2 separate regions of the Homo sapiens genome follow, and region 2 is linked to region 1. The links come from fine-mapping of genetic effects on gene expression. A gene starts in region 1. The other region holds a variant in brackets. All regions are shown on one strand. Distances are between the middles of the regions.

Region 1 (8,914 bases):
GCCAAGGAATGTTAAGTGGCCTCTAGAAGCTGAAAAAGGTAAGAAACTGACTCTCCCCTAGAACCTCCAGAAGGGGGCAGCCTTGCTGACGCTTTGAGTTTAGTGCAGTGAAGTGCTAAGACTTTGGACTTCTGACCTCCAGGATTGTAGGAGGGTAAATGTGTATTGTTTTCAGCCGCTAAGTCTGCAGCATTCTGCCAACAGCAGCCTTAGGAAACCAATACAGATAGAACAGTCAGCTTTTTACTTTGGGGCACAGGCTCGGTGCCTATGGACGGTACAGCACCAGGAAACTTAGGAGGCAGAACCCACCAAGTGGGAGTGTGGCAGCTCACTCAGTAAGGTCCTGTGAGAGATATTCTAAGCCCGGAGCAGGCCATCTGAAAGCAAAGAAAGCAGAAAACACTTCCCGAGGAACCCAAATGGCATTGCAAATCCAGCCATCCTGAAATACTATCCCAATTTTTTTTTGTTTGTTTTTTTGAGGCAGGGTCTCACTGTTTTCTAGGCTGGAGTGCAGTTGTGTGATCCTAGCTCACTGCTGCCTTGAACTTCTGGGCTCAAGTGATCCTCCTGCCTCAGTCTCCTAAGTAGCTAGGACTAAGAGTGTTTACCACCATGACTGGCTAAAAGAAAAAAAAAAAAGTTTCACAGAGATGGGGTCTCCCTATGTTGCCCAGGCTAGTGTTGATCTCCTGGTCTCAAGTGATCCTCTCGCCTCAGCCTCCCAAAGTACTGGTATTATAGGTGTGAGCCACTGTGCCTGGCCTGCTGCACTTTTGTTTGCCTTATCATGTAGTTCAATGTAGCTCAGTGCATAGCACAGTTCAAACTCAATAACTATATTTTAATGTATTATGAAACATTTTATACATGTAAAAACTCATAAAGAATATAACCAACACCTGAATATAGCCCATCTGCCTTAGGAAACAAAGCATAATAGCACAATTGATCCGCTATGAATGAATTCCTTCCTGTTCACAGTCCCCACCTGTACCTATAGGCAACCACCCTCCTGAATTTATCTTTTACCATTCTGGTTTTTTTTTTTTTTTTTTGAGATAGGGTTTGGCACTATCGCCAAGGCTGGAGTGCAGTGACATGATCACAGCTTGCTGCAGCCTCAAACTCCTGGGCTCAAGGGATCCTCCTGCCTCAGCCTCCTAAAGTGCTGCGATTACAGGCATGAGCCACCATACCTGGTCGCATTCTCATCCTTTAAAAGAAAATAGTACTAAATGGTATCATACCATGTGAATTAATATTCAACTTTTTCTCATTCAACACTGTGGAGTCAGGTGCGGTAGTGCTTGCATCTGTACTCAGCTACTCAGGAGGCTGAGGTGGATCACTTGAGCCCAGGATTTTGTGGCCAGCCGGGGGAACATAGTAAGCCCCATTTCAAAAACAACCCCACAGTTTGCAAAATTCATTTATGTTGATGTATGCAACTAATGTATTCATTTTTACTAACTTATGGTATTCTACTGCATAACTGTGTAGATTATCGATTCTGCCATAGATGGCATTTTGGTTGCTTCTCCCCCAGACCCCAACTACCACTAGAAGCAACGTTGCACTGAACATTCTTGTGTTTGCACGCATAGGCAAGGTACTCTAGAGCACATACCAAGAGTGGAATTGCTAAGTTATAGAGTATCTTTGCTAGAAATTGCTAAGTGGCCATCCAAAGTTAGTGAATGAACGTACACTCCTACTGGCAGTGCAAGAGAGTTCTGCTCTGCTCACAAATCCACATCCTTATTAAGTTTGGTAAAGACAGGTTTTTAAGTTTTTGCCAATCTGTTAAGTGTAACATGGTATGTCCTTAGTTTTAATTTGCATTGCTGCTCAATACTTGTTGCAAAAATGAATAAAAAATGTTCCATTCCATACCTCTGGGATTTGAGAATCTGTCCCAATTCCTAGGTCCCATATGTAGACTCCAACATCTGTATTACTTTGGCTTTCAAAACTGGCCTTCTACTCAGACTTTCTTTTTCCATCTTCACGTTTCTGTTGTGATCCTAGTAATCCTTTGCTTAGCTGGTTTTGAAGCCTTCAAGTCAATCTCAGCCTCACTCCTTCGCCTGAAAACAGTAGCTAGCAAAGTATACGGTAAGCTATAAAAAGCACCCGGATCTAAGGTGTAACCAGTCACTAAGTGCTGCCAGTTTTTCCTCTGTCAATTGTTTCAGTTCTTCCTTCCTTTCCCCTTCCATCAGGTTAATCCTGCTGTCACCTCGCTCACTGGTTCTTGCAATAAGCCAGACTGAGCTGGAAAGAACCGCCATGGTCCTCAGTGTTGTCTGTAGGGGACCTCACTGTCTGAGGCTGTCAGGGCTCTGTCAGGAGGAGACCCCTGGGGCCTTCTGAGCCCTACTAGGAGAGGATTCTAGGAGAGTAGGACGCCTTGCACATAGTAAGTACTAAGTCAATGTTACTTACCAGTAAATGAAGAGGCATGGGAAATTGTTATTATTTTTGAGACGGAGTTTCGCTCTGTCGCCCAGCCTGGAGTGCAGTGGCACGATCTGGGCTCACTGCAAGCTCTGCCTCACGGGTTCACGCTATTCTCCTGCCTCAGCCTCCAGGGAAATTCTTAATCAGAAAATATGTCTTAGATTTTTGTTTTAAAAGAGAACTGGCAGGAGCTCCAAATACACTAAAGCTCCAGTCTGAAATGACAGTCCCTGAGCATTCAATCTTTGGTCTAAGAAGCACAGAAATGTAATGCAAACCAGACACGGTTTTTTTAGTGATTTTCTGCACACACACACACACACACACACACACACAGTAAAAAGATCTAGTCATAACGTGTGCACCTGCAGTTCCAACTACTGGGGAGGGTGAGGCAGGAGGATCACTAGAGGGCAGGAGTTCGAGACTAGCCTGGGCAACATAGCAAGACACCCACCCCCAGTCCCCCCCGGAAAAAAAGAATAAAAAAGGTAAAAATAATTTTAAAAAGAGTAAAAGGAATGTAAAAATAATTTTAATGCATTTTATTTAATCCAATACATTAAAAATGTTACCTAACATGCAAACAATATACAAATTATTTTATACGACGTCTTTGGAATCCTGTATTTTACACGTAAAGCGCATCTCACTCCGGACTAGCCAGGTTTCAAGCACGTGATAGCCGCACAAGGCTGGAACCCAGGCCTGGGGAATTAATTCTTGTCCTCGGTGCTCAAACCATTCTTCCCTTCAAGCCTGGCCTAATCCCCAGTCTCTCTCATCTCTTCGAATACGCTCCGCGGTTATGCCCCTCACCTCACTGCACTGCAAATATTTCGTCCACTGAGTATTTGCTGATCGTCACTCAGTGCCGGGTGACCCAGCTTGACCAGCACCCGCAGCCGCCCTGCCACTGTTGGGCCGGGTATGGTGTGTCTGGCTTCCCTCTGTTCTGGGCCGGCTCCGAAACGCGCTCAAGAGAAATCGGAATCAGACACGGGGCAGTTCAGCTTTGGAAATGAGGAGCTCGAGGCTCCTGGGAGTCCGTTGCGGGCAGGTGGGCGCCGCTGTTGTGTCGGGAGAGCCAGGAGCGACAGACTCAAACTCAGAAACCCAACCACCTCCGCTCCCTCCGCGATGCGTGTAACGTGCGTTGCGCGGCGTCGCCCTTTAATAACGACGGGCGCTCGGAGTGCTGCGTCACTCGCCACCAGGGACTTAGGCGGGACTTCCGGGCGCGCGTAGGCACAACTTCCGGAAGGAGGCGGAAGAGCTTCTCGGCTCTAGGCTCTGGAGTCCCGGGAGCAGTGAGGGGCCACCCGGGGCACAGGAAAGGGCCGCTAGGGGAGGGCCGGGTGCACTCGGGGTGTCTGGGCCGCGGGTCTGAGGGATGAGGAGGGGCCATGGCCAGCGACGGGGCCAGGAAGCAATTCTGGAAGCGCAGCAACAGCAAGCTCCCGGGCAGGTGGGTGTGCCGCGGAGGGCCAGGTCGGGGTCAGGGGTCAGAGGTCAGGTGGCCGCGTTGGCCTCCTGGGCTGCGGGTGGAGTCGGGGGTCTGGAGAGGGCAACTTGGACTCTGAGGAGACTGCTGGATGGTGTGACGGGCGTTGGGGGGCTCGGAGGTCGGAGCGTGGGGTCTGGGGGTGACAGTGGCTGCACGTAGGATCGAGGCTTGCAAGGACGAGGAGGAGCTATTGGCGTTTTTCCTGACACTGGCAGGCTTCTTTCCGAGAAACTCCTGGGCTCCTTGGGGAGGCTGGAAGGAACTGATTCGGGTCATGCTGTGAAGTTTGGTGGAGTCCGGAAGCTGGCCGGGCTGAGGCCCCCCGTCTGCTGGGTGGATCAGTTTCTGCAGGGGGTGTGGTGTTTTTGACCCACTTGATTTGCCTGTGGTCTCTTGAGGGCTGCGGCTCTTGCCTTGAGCATAGAAGAGGACTAGAGTTTCCCTGTGAGTTTCCATGTTTCTGCTTGCTGGTGTCAAAACCACCTCCTATGTTGTGTTAGCAGGAAGTTTTTTTTTTTTTTTTTTTTTTTTTTTTTTTTTTCTTCGGCTGGAATGACCTGGGTACACCCTAGATGCTATACAGCTCCAGAGCTCCAGAGTCCTTGTCTGATTGCTGTGGCGCTGAGCTATGCCAGGGCCCTAGGGAATGAGACATTACGTGGAGGGTACCTAGGATAAAATCAGCCACTGGTGAAAACAGATCAGAGATAAGCAAACGTCAAGATTTCAGAACATAGTTCTGTTCCAAAGCTGAAGTCTGGAATGCTGAAAATTATGAATTGTGTTACGAAGATAAGTCTGAGTAGAATCATTCATAAACACAGTAAAATGGTTTGTACTCCTGTTTCATAATAAATATTATTGTTTGAGTGTTTGAATGATAAACTTTGGAATTTACTGCATCCAGTTAGAAAAGTTTACTTTTGGCCAGGTGTGGCGGCTCACGCCTGTAATCCCAGCACTTTGGGAGGTCGAGGTGGACAGATCACCTGAGGTCAGGAGTTTGAGACCAGCCTCACCAACATGGAGAAACCTAGTCTCTACTAAAAATACAAAATTAGCTGGGCATGGTGGCACATGCCTGTAATCCTGGCTACTTGGGAGGCTGAGGCAGGAGAATCACTTGAACCTGGGAGGTGGAGGTTGCAGTGAGCCGAGATCGTTCCATTGCACTCCATCCTGGGCAATAAGAGCGAAACTCTGTCTCAAAAAAAAAAAGGAAAGTTTACTTTTAAGAGTGATCTGGGGGTTAGCAGCGTGAGTTACTGACAGCTCAGACAGTGGCTTTGAGAATGAAGGGAGTCATCAAAGGTGGCCGGAGACCCTATTCGACTCCACAGGACCGTGCTTGATTCGAGAACAGTAAGACCTTTCAACAAAACCAGTGTCAGGGTCCAAGGTGAGTGAAGATTCTGGAATGGTGGTGGGTAGGAGGTCCTGGTAGTGACAGGAACAAATGCTGTAGAACATAAGAGTCCAGGGAAGAGGAGCCACATGACAGTGTAACTTTTATGTGTTACTTTTAGGTCTTAAGGTTTTGGTTCCTCATCAGTCTAAACTCTAATTCTTAATCAGCTTAGATGTAAGAATAACAGAGCTGCTGTGTGGAGTTACAGCAGTGACTCAACCTTTGGATTGAAGGCTGTGGCTCTTGGTAATTTGTCCTTATACTGAGTTGAATTTATGTCCATCTGGAAACTATGGATGTGACATTTGGAAATAGGGTTTTTGCACAAGTAATCAAGGTAAAATGAGGTCATACTGGATGAGGGTGGGCCTTAGTTCGTCAACTAGTATTTTTATAAAAAGAGGGAAATTTGAATACAGAGAGACACACACAGGGAAATGGCCCTATGGAGACAGAAACAGAGATTGGAATAGTACATTTACAAGCCAAGGAAAGCCAGGGGTTGCTGGCAGCCACCAGAAGCTAGAAGAGGCAAGGAAGGATGCTCACCTAGAGACTTGACAGAGAGCATGGCCCTGCAGATGACCACTTGATTTTGGGTTTTTGGCGTTTAAAACTGAGAGAGAATAAGTGTCTGTTGTGTTAAGCCATTCAGTTGGTGGTAATTTGTTATGGCAGCCACAGGAGACTAATACAGTCTCCAGCTTTCTTCTGTGTGAACCTGAAATACCGAACACCAGCTTTCCTTTTCCTCTGACTTTGATGCTATTCTGTGTCTTAGGCACTTTTGAGAGCAGCTTCTGTATTACCTTTGTGAAGTTGGAGTCTTGGAGAGTTCGAGGCTGTCACTGAAGAGGGCAGAAGAAGAAGGAGAGGTTGGGTGCACCAGGAAGGCCTGTGAAGCCTCTGTGTCTCCCATCCGTCTTGTGGCTCAAGCCTCTGGCAGTGCTGCTCTTTCAGGTGGCAGGCTGGAACTCTTCCCTGAAGGAGGAGTCACAGAGGGGTGCCCGTTTTCCTATCAGTAGTGGTGATTGGTCACTAGCTGCGTATTTATTTAGTCCACACCTATGCAAGCACAGTGCTAGTGGAGATCCTAGCCAGGTTCCTGTGGCTTTGGCAGCTCTTTCAATTGTTTCCCATGATTGTTTTCTTTCTTTTTTTGTTTTTGTTTTTGTTTTTGTTTTTTTTGAGATGGAGTCTCACTGTGTTGCCCAGGCTGGAGTGCAGTGGTGTGATCTTGGCTCACTGCAACCTCTGCCTCCCAGGTTCAAGTGATTCTCCTGTCTCAGCCTCCCAAGTAGCTGGGATTACAGGCGCCCACCAGCACGCCTGTCTGTTTTTTTGTATTTTTAGTAGAGATGGGGTTTCGCCATGTCGGCCAGGCTAGTCTCGAACTCCTGACCTCAGGTGATCCATCCACCTCAGCCTCCCAAAGTGCTGGGATTATAGGCGTGAGCCTCCATGCCTGGCCTTGTTTTCCTCCTTTTTTTTTTTTTTTTTCTGAGACAAGAGTCTCTCTCTGTAGTCCAGGCTGGAGTGCAGTGGCATGATCTCAGCTCACTGCTACCTCCACCTCCTGGGTCCCGGTTGAAGCAGTTCTCCTGCCTCAGCCTCCTGAGTAGATGGGATTATAGGCACTGGCCACCACGCCCAGCTAATTTATGTGTGTGTGTGTGTGTGTGTGTGTGTGTGTGTGTGTGTGTGTGTGTGTATTTTTTTTGAGACGGAGTCTCACTCTGTTGTCCAGGCTGGAGTGCAGTGGTGCGATCTCGGCTCACTGCAAGCTCCGCCTCCCGGGTTCACGCCATTTTCCTGCCTCAGCCTCCCGAGTAGCTGGGACTACAGGCGCCTGCCACCACACCTGGCTAATTTTTTATATTTTTGGTAGAGACGGGGTTTCACCGTGCTAGCCAGGATAGTCTCGATCTCCTGACCTTGTGATCCTCCTGCCTCGGTCTCCCAACGTGCTGGGATTACAGGCTTGAGCCACTGTGCCCGGCAATTTTTGTATTTTTAGTAGAGATGGGGTTTCACCATGTTGGCCAGGCTGGTCTTGAACTCCTGATCATGTGATCCACCAGCTTCAGCCTCCCAAAGTTCTGGGATTACAGGCGTGAGCCACCACACCCAGCCTTGTTTTCCTCTTTGTTTTTGAGTGCAGCCCTCATCTCAAGGAAACTCAGGAGGAAGACTACACCCACTGTACAATACAAGACTAGTAAGGGATCTTTCAGATAGTTCAACTCTTTTTTATTTTTGAGATGGAGTCTCGCTCTGTCGCCCAGACTGGAGTGCAGTGGTGTGATCTAGACTCACTGCAATCACTGCCTCCCGGGTTCAAGTGATCTTCCTGCCTCTGCTGCCAAAGTAACTGGGATTACAGGCGCCCACCACCATGCCCAGCTAATTTTTTTGTATTTTTAGTAGAGATGTGGTTTCAACATGTTGGTGTGGATGGTCTCGATCTCTTGACCTCATGATCCGCCCGCCTTGGCCTCCCCAAGTGCTGAGATTCCAGGCATGAGCCACCGTGCCCGGCCCACACCTCCTGTTTTTATGCAGCCTGAACTAAAGTCCCCCTTTTTTGCATCAAACTCAGTGTTGTTGGTGCCTCTGGCTTCCTGTTCTCCCTGGTATGTGCTTGCTTTCACTAGTGAGATCCACAGGTTTAGGAAAAGTATCTTTCTCATTCTTGCATTGTCAGTACCGATACCTGGTGTTTATTCCGAACTATCTCCTCGATTAGCCTGGAGAGTGAGTGGTTTGGCCAGGGCTATAAACTGCAGGAGAGGTGGTCTTGCTGGTAGACCCTCGGTTTATGCACACCCTGGTCCTTAGGTTGCATATGTGGCTGACGCTTTCCTAGAAACTTTGTTTCTGGATGAGCCAGGATGTGTGGTGTGGTAGATAGACCCTCCTAGTCAGAGGACTAGGAGTTGGTGGTCCAGATTTTAACTTTCTTTTTCCGGTAGTGGTCTTCACCAAGTTACCTCTGGGGCCATCAGTGTCTGTATCTGTAGCACAAAGCGGTTGAGTTTGGTTTAAGTAGCTATGGCAAATGGGGAGATATCTTTGGCTTAGCACGATTCTCTTTGAGGAGAAAAGAATGGGCTTCTTGGACCAGTTTTGAGAATTTGATGATTTGCTGATCCAGCAAATATGTATTCAACCCATAGTATGTGTTAGGAACAGCCCCAGGTGCTGGAGATAATATTAGTGAACAAAATAGACCTAGATCTCTGCTCTCCCAGAGCTTACAGTGCAGTGGGAGAGCCGGGTATAAATAACATAGCTCAGTTAAATGGAGTTAACTGTTGGAAGGTGACAGCTGCTATCAAAACAATGCTGGGAAAGAGGACTAGGTGGCTTAGTGGCAGGTGTGGTGGTGAGAAGGAGCCCTTCACTGAGGTGACATTTGAGGAAAGATTTGCACGAGGTGAGGGAACAGGCCAACCAGGAGGCTGGGGAAGAGCGGTCCTGGCAGAGGAGTGAGCAGGTGCAGAGGACTCCCAGAGCGATGCTGGCGTGCTTGA
Region 2 (8,914 bases), 410 kb after region 1:
CATGATGTGTCCGAGAGTGTCTAGGGCACACCCAAGTCGCCCACCATCCTGAGAACCAACACATCCCTCTCCCCAGGCCCCACCTCCCAGATCCCAGGTCAGTTGCTTGGGCTGGGGCCAGGACAATGGGGCATTTTTTTGAGCTCCTTGGGTGCTGATGGACATGTGGTCAGGCCTGAGAACCGTCAACCTCCAGGCCATGCAGCGAGAGTCTGATTCTGTTGCTTTTGATCCCTCACTGATCACAGACCCCACAGCCTTTACAAAGGGCCCTTGCAGACACTCGGTGTCCACTGGAAGGATTCTCGGCACACAGGCTGATGGAGAAAGGCAGGGTGCACTCCACGCTGCCCTCTGGCTGTGGCTTTGTTGAGATGGTGGTGCCCCAGGGACCGGGGGAGGGACGGATTGCAGACCTGACGCGACCTTGACTTCTACAGCATCAGTGTGATGAGCAGAGCCTTCCTTTAACTTTTAGATCCACAGATGTGGCCATTAATTGTTTATGGAAAAGTTAAGAATGAAAATGCAAGTGCCGTCTATAGTTTTCTGGGCTGGGCCCTGGGCAGGCCTCTCTCCACCTGCCCTCCTGGACAGGCAGCACCGTCATTGCTGGGAGAGCCATGTCCCTGAATGTGACCGAGGGATGGCTTCGCCCGTGGTGGCCCCTCTGCCTGCCTGGTGTGGGTGATGCAGAACAGCTCTTGGCTAATAAATGTGCCGCGTTTCCCAGACAGGAGACGACGTGGCCTAGTGCATAAATAAGACAAGCCTTTTTAAAAAAGAAATCTGTATTTAAGGATGTGTTTGGCTGTGTTCTTCTCCTCCCGTAAAGGTCACCCAGATAGATTTTTCCTTCTTTAGCATTGCAGGCTGCGAAGAACTGGGCATTTCTATTCTCCCTCCATCCAGTGAACCTGGCGGACTAAATTAGATTCTGAAATTGAGTGTGCAGTAGAGTCGGTGAGTTACCGTAATGGGAGGGTACTGCTTCTCACCTTGCAAGGAGCGAGGTCATGATAATATGAAGCGAAGTGGATTAAAAATAAAACCAAAGGTATTTATTTATGACCTGCTCAGAATTGGATTGGCATCCATGTAAGTTGCATCTAATGGTGAAAGACAGCAGATTGATGTTGATATGTCCCCAGGGACTTTTAGCCAGTGAAATTCGCTCCCTGAATTCAATTTAAAGGCCCACTGAAAGTATCCAAAATGCGAAAGGAAATGGAATTGAGGAAGTGGGGGTGGAAGCCCAGCAACTGCGAAATAGCAATTGGAAGACGGTCCTGGTGTGTAACCCTCCTGATGCAGGACCGGAGAGAGGACAGTCCTGGTGTGTAACCCTCCTGATGCAGGACCAGAGAGAGGACAGTCCTGGTGTGTAACCCTCCTGATGCAGGACCGGAGAGAGGACAGTCCTGGTGTGTAACCCTCCTGATGCAGGACCGGAGAGAGGACAGTCCTGGTGTGTAACCCTCCTGATGCAGGACCGGAGAGAGGGCAGTCCTGGTGTGTAACCCTCCTGATGCAGGACCGGAGAGAGGACAGTCCTGGTGTGTAACCCTCCTGATGCAGGACCGGAGAGAGGGCAGTCCTGGTGTGTAATCTTCCTGATTCGGAAATGGAGAGCGCAGCTCCGGGATGGCCGGGGGGCCTGCCTCAGTGAGGGTGGGGCAACATGCAGACGGCAGCCTCCGGCACAGCCAGGATGTGAGCCCAGGTCATCTGTCCAGGCTCTGTGCCTGCACAGCTCAGCTCATCCTGGCTGTGCCTATGTGGAGAGCCTGCCATCCTTATCTCCAGATGAAGAAGAGTGTGGCTTGGAGAGCCAGGCCCACTGCCCAAGACCACCTGGACAGGAAGACAGGATGTGAACTTCAGAGCCCAGCTACCCCCCATTCCCCTCCATGCCAGTCTTGCTGGGCTGCGTTTTCTCGAGGCAGGCGACATGGGCATCCCGAGCCTGTGGCCCTCCCTGTCCCTTGTCACCTGCTAGGAGTGGGGAAGGGCAGTTCCAGCACCCTGAGGGCTCCTCAGCCGCCTTCCTGACTTCCTGGATCCAGCTTCTGTTTGGGGTGGGAGGTAGGAGAAGCCGGGGAGCCTGCAGGTGGCCCCCTGGGGGCAAATTCTCGAGGACCAGAGCCCACAGGGCCATCTGAGCAGTGTAGACCCCTCCCTCAGGGAGTCTGCCCAGCTTCATGACAGAGCCTGGGCTTGGGCTGGCCCTGACCTGATGGTCCCCTGTTTCTCTTCTGAGAACCCCCACTGCAGGAGGCTGTCTTGGCCACTCAGCCCTCTCTGATCCCTACTTCTGCCAAGCCCTCTGTGTGTTGGGGTCCCCGGAGACCTGCCCTGCCCTTGGTGGGCTGCCAGCAGCTGTGGATGTGGGCGTGGTCATGTGGGAGGGCGGGGCTGTCAGGCGGTGGTCGTGGGGGGTCCCCCGAGGACCTGTGCTTTTCCTTCCCCGTTGTGGCCTCAGTGGACGTAGGTCAGTCTCCATCTCCTCAGTGTCCGCATCCCGGCCTCCAGACCATGAGCTCTGGAGACAGTCGCCCATGTGTCTTTTGGGGGTGGGACTCAGTGCCCCCATAGCCCATCTGAGACACGGCCCAGCTGCAGGCCAGAGGAGCCCACCCAGCACTCCCAGTAAGCCCAACGCACCTGCCCAGTGCGCCCGGTGAGCCCAGTGTGCCTACCCAGCACTCCCAGTGAGCCTACCCAGCACTCCCAGTGAGCCTACCCAGCACTCCCAGTGAGCCTACCCAGCACTCCCAGTGAGCTGTGTGCTCACCCAGAGTGCCCAGTGAGCCCAGTGAGTCCGGTGTGCCCGCCCGGTGTTCCCACCCAGCATGCCCAGTGAGCCTTGTGTGTCCACCCAGTGTGCCCGCTCAGTGAGCCTGGTGTGTCTACCTAGCATGCCCATGGAGCCCACTGTGTGCCCACCCAGTGCTGGCTGTACTGCTGGCCGTATGTGTGTTTTCCCAGTCTGTCCAGCAGCCCTGACAGTAATTTACTACAGTAAATAAAAATTTGTACTATGTGAATTCAATGCAATAAATGCTGTGACTGGGAAGTAGAATGGGAGAATGAAGGGTACAGGAGGCGAGATTTTAAAAATACACATGTAAGATGATTTTATCCACACTGAACGACTTATAATTGTTGCTTATTCCCTATAGTTCCCTATTTTCCTACTTACATGCATGTCATTCACCTTTATGTAAAACCTTTTACCTCCTATCTTTACCTATGAGAATCCTACCTGAATTTTAAGAGTCTGATCAAATGTCACTTCCACAGAAAGGCCTTCTTTGGTTGTAACTGGAATTAATTTTTAAATCTCAGTCTAAGGCAAATAAGCACATTAGAAAGCAATAAATAAATAAATGGTGGCCCCATTTTGCAGAGGAGGAAGCTGGGCCTCGGGGTGGAGTCATTGTTCCAGGGCACCAGGTTGGACCTAGACCTGAAGCTGGGTTTGGTGGAGCCCTGCACCCCAACCCACTGGTGTGAGGTGGTCATGCAGGAGGGGCCAGTTGGCGCTTTGCTGTGCTCCTGGGCTCCCGGGGTGGGCCTGAGCCGGCTCCGTTCTGTGATCCCCTCGTGTGGGCTTCATCTGCTGATGGTGCTGGTGCCCGGAGGGGTCTCCTGGTGCACAGAAATCTGTGCTTAGTGGCAGTTCCAGGGGTGCTGCGGTACTTCCTGGGCTGATACAGGCTTTGTGGGAGTGGGAAGCTCCTGGGCGGAGGCTGCAAAGCTGCAGCAGGGCCCCGAGAGCTGGGTCTCCCCCTGAGGGGCAGGGGATTCAGTTAAATGAAGCTCTGGGCGGCCCCTGCCACGACATCTCAGATGCCGGACTTGGAGCTGCGCAGTGGGCCTCCTGCCTGGCTGCTGGGATGGGGCGGTGGCCGTGGGGCGAGGCCTGGGGCCCTTCTGGGGTTGAGCAGGGAGCAGCTGCCGGCTGGGCAAGTTTTCCTGGGTCACCCACCCTCCACTGTGGGTCACCTCCTCTGACCTGGGCTTGTGTCTTTCTCTCCAGTTTTCCTGGATCACCCGCCCTGCACCGTGGGTCACCTCCTCTGACCTGGGCTTGTATCTTTCCCTCCAGTTTTCTGGGGTCACCCGCCCTCCACCGTGGGTCACCTCCTCTGACCTGGGCTTGTCTCTTTCTCCCCAGGAGCTGCTGCTCTTCCTCCAGAACCTGCCCACAGCCCACTGGGATGATGAGGACATCAGCCTGTTGCTGGCCGAGGCCTACCGCCTCAAGTTTGCTTTTGCCGACGCCCCCAATCACTACAAGAAATGAGCCCAGGCCCACCCGCAGCTGGCCTCACTGTCCCGGGTGGCGCGCCCCACCTGCCTGGCTGGTGGTAGGCCCCTGTGAGCTGGTCCCGGGCTGCTAAAAGGCCTTGTGAGGTGGCCCCACCCTCCAGGGGAGCTGGTGAAGATGGGCCACAGACCTGGTCTAGGGCTGACAAAGACAGGGACAGCCTTTGTTTTCTGAGATACCAAAGAGAGCCAGGGGAGGGCCCCGGGTTCGGCGGCCAGAGGCAGGTCAGGGGTCCCCTCTCCCTCTCCCTGCAATGTCCTTGCCAAATGACTGCCTCGTGCTGCCCCTAGTCCGGGGCAGCCTAGGAGGCCGACCCTCTTTGGAGTCCTGCTGTCTGGGTGCCAGGGCCGGAACGAGGTAGTGGCCATCTCATACCTACTCTGAAATGCAAAACTTCTATTCTGTTGAGTGAAAGAATAAAATGTAGACAAAATCTAGACCGAGACGTTGCGCTGACCCGGGGTCTCTGTGCCGCGAGGTCCCCTCACAGCTGTATTTCACTGCTGCTGGCCCTTTCCCTCCGTGTGTTTTCCTGCTTGCTTGGTTTAAACGTGGCTGGGAAGCTGAAGGCTGGAGTCCAAGCCGTGAGCCCGCCGAGTGCCTGGGAGGCCGTGGGACCAAAGGCTGGGAGCAGAGGGAGGCCTCGCCATCGCCTTACTTTCCACCTTGAACCTCTTTTACAAGAGAGAAACCCCCACCTCCCTGAGGTCCAGGGCCAAGTGGCCCCGCCACGCAGGTAGGCGCCGGCCTCAGCCAGAGCCCCTGGAGGCCCACCCAGGCTGTCGGGCCATGTTGGGCTGGCAGACGGGCAGGGGGTCGCGTCCCTGTCATCAAAGCCCTGAACCACAGTGCTCTTCTCACCGCAGCCTGGAAGCGGAATGAGCTTTTGGAGACTTCCTGGGACTTGCTGTCCTTGTCCAGGTCTGCCAGGTGTAGGGGAGGTGTGACTGGTTCCATCATGGACCGGTTCCTCCATGGACCGGTTCCTCCGTGGACCGGTTCCGCCATGGACCGGTTCCGCC[ATGGACCACTCCTGCCC/A]TGGACCACTCCTGCCCTGGACCGGTTCTGCCGTGGACTGGTTCCCGCCGTGGACCAGTTCCCGCTGTATACTGGTTCTGCCCTGGACTGGTTCCCGCTGTGGACTGGTTCCTTGGGGCTCTAAGTGCGGAAGGGCCCAGAGCTGGTCCCTGCCCAGCGCCCTGCTAGGGCTGTGTCCTTGGCTCCAGGGGCCTTGGGACTGGCTTCCCAGCGTTCCCTCGGTGTGTCACAGGCTGCATGACCCCTGGAATGCGGGCAGGGCCACAGCCACAGTCTGTCTGATCCCTGAGCCCAGGACAGGCTCACGTCCTCAGCGACCCACTGGTGACTGACTTCCCAGACTCTCCTCTGTCCCTCAGGAGCAGCCGTGTCCTCTCCCAGGCCCTAGGACACTGCCAGAGACTGTGGGACATACAGGCATAAGTGATGTGTGTGTTTCTGCTTCTGTTTTAAAAATCCAGGGTCATTACACACAGCATGGAAATTAGCACAAAATGCTGTGCAAACGTCAGATGCTCCCAAACCAGCAAAGGGATGGGCTTGCTTCACATCAGATGCGGGCACGCCTTACCCCTGCCTTCCGTGTCCCCACCCCAGGGTCAAGGGTTCCTCAGACCAGCCATGCCTCCTCCTCCTGCCGCCTCCTTTTCTAGATGGGGAGGGGATTCCGTCACAAGAAGAGCCGCCCCTCGGCCGTGTGCAGGAAGCCCCATGTCGCTTTGCCGAGATCAGCCCTGGGAGGATCCCCTTCTCCAGCTCAGATCATGCCGTGTGGCCAGAAGGCTGCGGACACAACTGACCTGCTTCTCGAGGTGGTTGATGTTTTAAACAGGAAGCTCCACGGAGTTCAGCCCTGTGTGCATTTCCTCATGTATGTAAACGCCAAGACTGAATGTGAGAGGTGTTGGCCGCGGGCCTTAAGTCTGAGCAGATCCATCTGGAATGTTCGGGGTGTGCTGTCTGGATGTGGTGCGCTAAAAACACGGAATAAAGATCAGTGACAAAGCCGCGGCCTTGGCCTGTGATTCGAGGACTTGCCCATCGAGGACAGGGGCACCCTGGCCCAGCCCTGCCGAGGGTCTGAGCTCAGGGCCATTGCGGCGCACCAGCGTGGGCCCGGCAGCACCCGTGATCTCGCTGCCCCCCGCAGGACCTCTCAGGGAGATGGGGCTGCAGCTGCTCAGGTGGTGCAGGGATGCCACTTGCCCGGGCGGGGCAAGACTCAGAAACCAGTCTGACCCCCGAAGCCCGGCTCTGCACTAGCTGGAACACGGGAGTGTGGGGTCCAGGCTGGCCCCTGTCAGGCTCCTGAACAAGGGACCTCCCCTTGGGCCACATCTGTCAAGCACCTGCTTTGAAAAGGGCTGTTCCGGGGTAGGCACCAGGGTCTGGGGTCCCCCCCGCCTCTCCTGGGATACACTTGCCTCACCCTCACCCACACACTGAAACACCCTCCTTGCCCTGTGTTACTGAAGCAAGGCCCTTCAAAGGGCCTCAGTTTCTCAGGGCAGCTTTCCAGGTGCGCCACACCCCTCTGAGTAACCCCGTCTGGGTGCCCCACCCTCAGGTACCCCACACCCCCCTGGGTGCCCCACCCTCGGGACCCTCCCTTGGCAGCACTTGGCTTTCCACTGCCTTGTGCTGTCCGCTGACGGGTGTGGGGTGTGCTCCTGTCCCCGCGGGTGTGGGGTGTGCCCCTGTCCCCGCGGGTGTGGGGTGTGCCCCTGTCCCCGCGGGTGTGGGGTGTGCCCCTGTCCCCGCGGGTGTGGGGTGTGCCCCTGTCCCCGCGGGTGTGGGGTGTGCCCCTGTCCCCGCGGGTGTGGGGTGTGCCCCTGTCCCCGCGGGTGTGGGGTGTGCTCCTGTCCCCGCGGGTGTGGGGTGTGCACTACTGACCGGCTGTGGGGTGTGCTCCAGTCCCCACGGGTGTGGGGTGTGCTCCTGTCCCCACGGGTGTGGGGTGCGCACTACTGACCAGGTGTGGGGTGTGCTCCTGTCCCCGTAGGTGTGGGGTGTGCTCCTGTCCCCACGGGTGGGCTGGTGGCTCCACAAAGTGGGAGTAGCCTCTTCACCTCTCTTTCCACAGTGACCCAGTGCGGAGCTGAGCCAGGCAGGGCTGCCTTCCTGGGCCCGGTGGCCCGGCACATGGGCTGACCTCACTGTTGCCTGGCTGTGGTCTGCAGGGTCGTAGGCTGCAGGACGGAGATCGGCTGTCCCCAGCAGCCACCAGGTGTTCAGCTCCTGACTCCAGGTCACAGCCCAGCAACTGCCATTCACCTTCACGATTCCCCGGAGTTTGCAGCTCAGCAGTTGGCTCCTCGGGCCCAACTTGAGGTCTTCACAGCCTGTGCAGACTCTGCTCCTGTGGGTGGCCCGAGCCCAGGGGTCCTGAAATCAATCCCTGACCTGTGGTGGCTGCTGTCCTGTGCACCTCACCCTGCCCGGTCCCAGGGAGAGGCTCGGCCTGCTGGCACCACTGCTGTGCCCTTGGCAAGGTCAGACGCGTCGGGGAGCATTGGGGTCCTGGGGAGTAGGAGATGGAGAGTCTCTGTGGTTTGTACTTTTGGAAGAACTAGGAGGTGGGACGCTTCTGTGCCGTGTCACCGATGGATGGAAACAGGAGGAATACTGTCTGTGTTCAAGCAGACCCACTCCGCTGAGGACTTGGGGACAGGCTGCAGAATGACACGCGCCATCGCAGGCTGCAGCATGCCAGCCTCCATGCCGCCGTCCTCCAGAGCTGGAGGCTCCTCGTCAGCCCTGTGGCCCCAGTGATCTGCTCTCGGCCGCAGTCCTGGGGAGTTTGCCCAAGACTCAGACCCCTCGGGGTGTGGACCTCCCTGGGGCCTTCCCAGCCCCAGTCCACCCCACCGTTCCTCTCCTCTCTCAGCCCCAGCCCCTTGGCTTCCTTCTGGCTCTGCACTTTGCCCTGCGGGATTGCGGGCTGCTTGGGGTGGCCCCCACTCAGCTGTGAGGCCTTTCCACACCCACCCTGCAGCTCCTTGGCATGGAGGGTCCCCAGCACAGGATGGCCTCCACCCAGGAGGCACACGGCCGCTTACATGGTCCTGTGTGAGTGACCCAGCCGTAGTCCATTTTGTTGACAAGATGAGGCTGGCTATTCTTTCTTTTTTTATTTTTTTATTTCTTGAGACAGGGTCTTGCTCTGTGGCCCAGGCTGGAGTGCAGTGGTGTGATCTCAGCTCACTGCAACCTCTGCCTCCTGGGTTCAAGTGATTCTAATGCCTCAGCCTCCCGAGCAGCTGGGATGACAGGTGCCCGCCATGACACGCAGCTAATTTTTTTAGTAGTTTTAGTAGAGACGGGGTTTCACCATGTTGTCCAGGCTGGTCTCGAACTCCTGACCTCAACTGATCTGCCCACCTCGACCTCCCAAAGTGCTGGGATTATAGGTGTGAGCCATCGCGCCCGGCCTGATTATTCTTTTAGGAAAAAAAATTATATTCAACTTCCAGATAAGTGGATGTAAATATAAAAATTACCCCCAAATACTCAAAAATACATGGCTATTTTTATCATTGGGAA

Which allele goes with the higher level. Alleles are on the strand shown, and positions count from the first base shown. SD is a standard deviation of normalised expression in the study named.
For the expression in nucleus accumbens of the gene that starts at base 3,736 in region 1, allele A in region 2 goes with a lower level than allele ATGGACCACTCCTGCCC (moderate effect, 0.43 SD a copy in GTEx).

The links.
Region 2: its variant is fine-mapped to the expression of TBC1D22A in nucleus accumbens (GTEx, PIP 0.92).

Annotation. Positions count from the first base shown.
Region 1 is chr22:46,758,915-46,767,828 of GRCh38, forward strand. TBC1D22A (TBC1 domain family member 22A) reads left to right here and starts at 3,736. Exons shown (of 13, transcript NM_014346.5): 1 at 3,736-3,934. The coding sequence starts at 3,873. TBC1D22A-DT (TBC1D22A divergent transcript) reads right to left here and starts at 3,614. Exons shown (of 1, transcript NR_186691.1): 1 at 2,997-3,614. RefSeq lists enhancers at 2,783-3,617, 3,354-3,483, 4,184-4,263, 5,194-5,263, 5,304-5,383 and 1 more and a silencer at 4,384-4,443.
Region 2 is chr22:47,169,318-47,178,231 of GRCh38, forward strand. It overlaps TBC1D22A (TBC1 domain family member 22A), which reads left to right. Exons shown (of 13, transcript NM_014346.5): 13 at 4,181-6,376. The coding sequence ends at 4,309. Among named protein-coding and RNA genes, the nearest start is that of TBC1D22A-AS1, 260 kb to the left of the region's middle. RefSeq lists enhancers at 1,937-2,436, 6,534-7,624. The variant ATGGACCACTCCTGCCC/A (reference allele first, on the strand shown) is at 5,356.